Regions from separate parts of the Homo sapiens genome. Here region 1 is linked to region 2. The links come from fine-mapping of genetic effects on gene expression. A gene starts in region 2. The other region holds a variant in brackets. All regions are shown on one strand. Distances are between the middles of the regions.

The links. PIP is the estimated chance that this variant, and not a neighbour inherited with it, causes the effect. A credible set is the group of variants that fine-mapping cannot tell apart.
Region 1: its variant is the best candidate, but not a certain one, in a credible set for the expression of TBPL1 in esophagus muscle (GTEx, PIP 0.86).

Annotation. Positions count from the first base shown.
Region 1 is chr6:134,018,831-134,021,745 of GRCh38, forward strand. All of the region lies in intron 2 of SLC2A12 (solute carrier family 2 member 12), which reads right to left. Among named protein-coding and RNA genes, the nearest start is that of SLC2A12, 32 kb to the right of the region's middle. The variant G/A (reference allele first, on the strand shown) is at 1,395.
Region 2 is chr6:133,952,033-133,954,947 of GRCh38, forward strand. TBPL1 (TATA-box binding protein like 1) reads left to right here and starts at 1,192. Exons shown (of 7, transcript NM_004865.4): 1 at 1,192-1,393. LOC128092253 (umcharacterized LOC128092253) reads left to right here and starts at 1,272. Exons shown (of 2, transcript NM_001414965.1): 1 at 1,272-1,393. The coding sequence starts at 1,272. RefSeq lists a silencer at 190-299.

The DNA.
Region 1 (2,915 bases), 67 kb after region 2:
CTGCCATGTTGTGGGTGAGCAAGACACATGTGCTGGATGTGTGAGTGAATCAATGAATCCCTACCACTTCTCTATCTTCTCCTCTTCCTCACTCCAAGATGTTTTCTGGCTGGAATTTCTGCCCATTTGAGTCCTCAGAGTTGGTAGAAGAGATCAGGGGAGGTTATTTGGTGTCATCTGTCACTTGAATATGTGAATACAAAGGTAGCTGAAGGATGACAGTCGCAGCTTTATCACCTAACTTCGTATGTGACCTTGGGAAACATGCCTTCCATCTGCTCAAAGTGAAAACTTATTCATCATGAGATGAAAGAAGAGGTTAATTAATTAATTTATGGGCATATTAATTTTTGGATAAAAAGCCCTAATAATTATTATAAAAAAAACAGTCACATATATTTTCCGGAGTTTCAGTGGCTATTTTAAGGAGGGCTGGGTTTCTACACAAGTGTCACCTCAGATGAACTCATGAAATAATAACATTATGCCTTGGGTTTTGGCTCATCTTGACTTTACTTGTGAAGCATGAATATAAAAATCTTCACGTTGTTCTGTGTCTTCACAATGTCAAGAATCTGTGATTCTACGTTGTGAAAGCTTGAACCATGTTAGAAAAATTCTGTTATTAAAGGGAGCTGAAGTGATGATCAAGAGCACCCCAGAAACAGTGGGGAGTCGAGGTAAGATTTTGAACATATTTGAAGTGAAAGATAAGTTATGGACAACAGAGTGTTTAATAAGTATATATCCTGATTTTGTTTGACATACGGGTTTTAATATTAGCTACAGAAAAATGGAAGGGAGGGGCTCTTAGCCTCTCTGGGGCCATGAACCTCTTCGGTAGGCTGGTGAAGCCTATGGACCCCTTCTTAGAATAATATTTTAAATGCATTCTAGAAGTACATAAGATGTTGGGCGCAATGGCTCATGCCTATAATTCCAGCACTTTGGGAGGCCAAGGCAGGTGGATCACTTGAGGTCAGGTGTTCAAGACCAGCCTGGCCAATATGGTAAAACCCCGTCTCTACTAAAACTACAAAAATTAACCAGGCCTGGTGGTAGTGCACAACTGTAATCCCAGCTACTCAGGAGGCTGAGGCAGGAGAATCGCTTGGACTCAGGAGGCGGAGATTGCAGTGAGCCGAGATCGAGCCACTGCACTCCAGCCTGGGCAACAGAGTGAGATTCCATCTCAAAAAAAAAAAAAAAAAAGTATGTAAGATTACATGAGTACCCCTCCTGGATTCTAAATTCTGGGGCAACCCAATTATTTTACAGTTAGGGGAACAGGGGACCAGAAAGTAAAATGACGTGGGGCATCCACTTTAACCTAAGAATAGAAACACTTTCCTGGCAGAAGAAAATCATGCTGTGATCTAACACAATTAAGGAAT[G/A]TTGTTCTAAGCCAATCCATATTTAAGAAGGTCTAATAAGGATGGTTTAATCTTGCTTTCAATGTTACTTTAGAACAGCAAGTACTTTTCCTTCATACCTCTATTTACACAAAGGATTTATTTGTATTACAAGCAATAAACTCTCTAAATACCTGAGCACTAATCACATCAGCTTAATAAGTTTGGTAATGCATTCAAGATCTGGTATGAAAAGCTTGTTCCTAATAAAAATCTTCTTTAAACTCCAACTAGTTTATATAGTTTATACCAATGCTCTAGAATACAATTGGGGATTGAAATGAAATTACTACAGGATATTTTCTTTAGAAAAGAAAAAGAAACTAAAATGTGAATATGGATGTAAAGGATTGACTCTTAGCAAGAAAAAAAATGGAGAATTATTTGGGTCTCTTTTAAAAACACGAGGAGAATCCATAGCCTCAAGATAAGAATGTGAAATGACTGTTCTCTTTAGATGTGATTTGGATTCCTGCCTCTGACAGCATGACTCCAAGCCTCACGTGTGATTACCCAGGCCAGTCCTTGCACCTGCAGTTGTAAATTGGACAGTCCATGAGATGTAAGAAGTATTTCCTTTTCCTAGATCCAAACTTCCTTCAACCCTGAGATTCTCCAACTCGTTGGCATTGCTTCTGGTCTAAGCAGTTCTCCGAAGCCCCTCTTCTCCATGTTGTAGCAAAAAGCAGAGGATCCAAAAAGCATCCAGAACAACTTTTAGATATTGTGTCCAAAATTCTCGAATAACTATGTATGCCTTAACAAAGAAATGCCTAAATATCTCCCGCTAATTGTTTCTTAACACTACTAAATCTCCTGCATCTTTTCTTACAGCCAAAATCAGAAAGATATTTTTTAAAAATCATGCCCAAGTGATGGATTGTTCTGCAAAAAGCCTCGTGATGGTGTCTGGCAGGAACAGGAGTTTTTTTGGCAGCCTAGTATTTCTAGCTTACTTAGTTCCTAGCCTGCCCACTAGCCAGATCTTTACACAAGTAAAGAAGCCCAATTTGACATTTTTCCTATGTCTGCATCGTATTTTTAAGTCCTTTTCCTTCTTCCTGCTTAAAAACACAAAGGTAAATAAACCAGCATGATTTTTAAACAGACTCATGCTGTGCTCACTTACAGGGACAGAAAGAAAAAATATGAGATGTTTCTTCCTTCAAAATGCTTACAGTCTATAACTACATTCTGGTTAATAAACCAAAATAAACATACAGAAGTAATACCCTATTGCTAAGGACTAAGATGTGTTCTCACATTGTAACTTACATTATATCATACTCTCATACTTTACAGCATCTAAAGCACTCTCATATACATTAGATCATCTGATGTGCACCTGTACTCTAGGAGATAGGACAGATATTACTATGCCCATTACATAGATTAGAAATAGCTCAGAGAAGAAAAATCACGTAAAGGTCACACCACCAGTAAGTAGAAGAGCTGGGATTAGAACAGAGGTTTTCTGATTTTAAATTTATACGTTTGGTAGCC
Region 2 (2,915 bases):
ACTAACGCCAGGGGCTTCTGACTGCAGCCGAGCTCTGGTGGAAAGGCCGATGCCGGCCTGAGAGTGGGAAACGTGGGGCCGGGAGCCGGGGGCTTCCGCGCGGCGTGGCGTGGCGTGGCGTGGCGTGGCGCCCTCAGGGCCGTTACGCGATTTTCGCTCCCGCGGGCAGCGCCTCTCAGGCCACTCCCGAGGGACCCCGAGGACGCACTCGGGCCCCAGGGCGACGGTTCAAACGGGCCATTGTGCGCCCCCGGGGTCCCCCGGCCCCTGCAGGGCTACTTGGGCGCAGAGCCGCGGAGGGTCTCCGTTCCTAGAGGTCCTCCTATCCCGGGCTGCCTGAGTCCTCGCCAGCATCCGCCCTCTCCCACTCCCATCCTTCCTGGATCCGCCTCTCGGTTCCCGAGGGACAGTCCCGACCGCAAACCCACGTAGAGTAAGGAATGTGGGACAGGCGACAGAAGTGGCATACGGTCCTGCGTTATCCCTCCGTCTCGCCACACCTTGTGTCTCCATCTCTCCCCACTTCCTTCCCTCCGTCTGTCATCTGTCATCCCCGGTCGCTCTAAGACCAGGATTCCAATTCGCCTAGTGAGGAATCTCACTAGGGGAATTTATCGCGACATCATAAATTAACGGGTTCATTTTGACTGAAAAAGCGAAGGACTTTTTTCAGGCAGAAAACAAGTCTCGTCTGGACGGTAAGGACTAGCTTTAGCAATTATATAATGGGGGGTGGGGAGGACCTTTTGTATAAATTTAATGAGCTGATGAGAAAGTTCTACGGTTTTGACAAAAAAGTCCACCTAAATATTCGACTGTATGCCAGAAATTACTACACGTTTAGATATCAACTAAAAATATACAAAGGATACACGGTGTTTTCAGAACCCTTTCAAGCGGTTCTTAAACAAAAAAGTCTAGTCCGATGCCCATTAGCGCCGCCCCCATCCCACCTCTTACCTCCCACCGAGCCCAGCGGGTGGGCAGGAGGGGCCTGATTTGGGGACCAGGAAGGAGGAAGGAAGGGTGGGGGCGGGGGACGGGGAAAGTGACGGGAGCAGTGAGAGCCGGAAATGAGTGGCTAGCGAGGCACCCAGGAGCGCCCTGTCCGGCGGCGCTCTAGCCCTCGCGCACTGTCTCTATGCTCCCCAGCGTCTAGTCTATTTATTGTCGCGGGGAAGCTGCGGCCGCCTCGCACCCGGAACAACAAAGCAAGGAAGACGGAGTCCGAGCCTCGGGGGCTCCTAGCAACGGGCCGGGGCGGGAGTTCCATGGAGACTGGGGAGCGCGCCCGTCTCATCCTCATCCTTGTCCTCCAGCTTCTCCTTCGCATCCGACGCAACCGGCAGCAGCGCTGCCGCCGCGTCCTCAGCCACCGCTCCCTCTTCCCACGGTAACCCCCTAGGCGACCCTGGGCACAGGGAGCGCGGGCGGCTGAGCGGCCTGAGCACCGGGTGCGGGGCGTCTGGGCGCGGGGTGGGCATGTGCGGAGCCCGGGCCAGACTTGGGGTGGGATGTGTGGGGGCGGGCGACTGGAGGGCAGCCGCTGAGGTGGGGGAAACCGGTCCGGTGGCCGAGGGAGGGCTCAGTTCTGAAGAGGACCGGGCGATATTTGGGGATCTCTTTAGGGATAACGGGTTGGGGGTGGGGCGTCCGTACCTGGGAGCGTTACCGAGCCTGGTGTAGGATAAGAAAAGAAGGGTTATCTTTCGTTTAAGCCACCACTGGGAAAGACGGGGAAAAGAGATTCCTCATCTGTCTCGGAGCCATCACCCAGGGGAAGAGGGACCGTGCAAAGATGCTAGGGGTCCGTTGCTTCTCAGAAAACTTACAGCGGCTTCTCTAATAGCTCCCAAAAAGCGGCTTCGTCGGTTTCTGATTCTGGCAATGCCGGCAGCCTCGCTTTATTTTATTATTATTTTTGACCAAAATTAGGATTGATGGAGAAGGATCTAGAACTGAAGAAGAGAAAATGAATTGTGGGTAGGGCTAAGCAGGGATGAGAGTCGGGATAAGTGATAAAAATAGCCAATAAAAGCCCTAAAAGTAAATCTAATAGGGCATGAGGGCTTAAAAAGAAAATCTCTCCTGCCGAGATGTGCATCTGCAGGCTCTGTCAATGTGCTCATTGCAATAAGACTCAAACTGCAGTCAATCCACATCTGTGAGCTCTCTGACTGCATCTGTCACCTGCAGTTCCAAAGCGACACTGGCAGTAAGTGCATGAGCTTCTGTATTTAGGGTTTAGAACAGTGCCTTAAAACTGTGACTTAAGAAAAGGGAGCAGGTTTGCGTGTGTGTGTGTAAGCAATGTGGATTCTCTGGGAAAATATAAAAAGAGACATAAGAAGGTTCAGCCATCCTGGCATAATTTCGCAGTCTCTTTGAGAAAATGGCAGTTCCTTCCTATTGAGAAGTGACTGTTAGCACTATCTGGTTGAAAGGATTATTCACAGTTTGGTATGCCCAGTGAAATATCAGTTTATGTTACCTCTTTAGTCTTACATCACAAGCTGCTTAATGGTTTTATACTTTACAAAATCATTTTGGGTGAGTAAATGAGGTTTTCCTGTAGCACAATGAAAAGGCCACATATACATACAAAGTTCTTTATGTAAAGTTGAAGATTAAAGATGAAAATAAAATTGATAAATCATAGGAGCAATTAGGTCAACCACAGCTTCTGTTTGTTCCCCACCCCTTTTGTTAAACCTGACTTCTCCTAAGCAAAAAGGTGTCATCCTTTCCCCAGCCTCCTCTTTACGTACCCTCTGCCCTCAAAATCAGTATCAGAAACTCTAGTGACCTATTACTATGTGCCCTTGATTGGGCTGGCTTGTTCCTGAATGAGGGCTAGCCAGAATATAGCTTCAACTCAGGCGTTTTCATCTTAAGCTTTTAATATGGAATTGAGG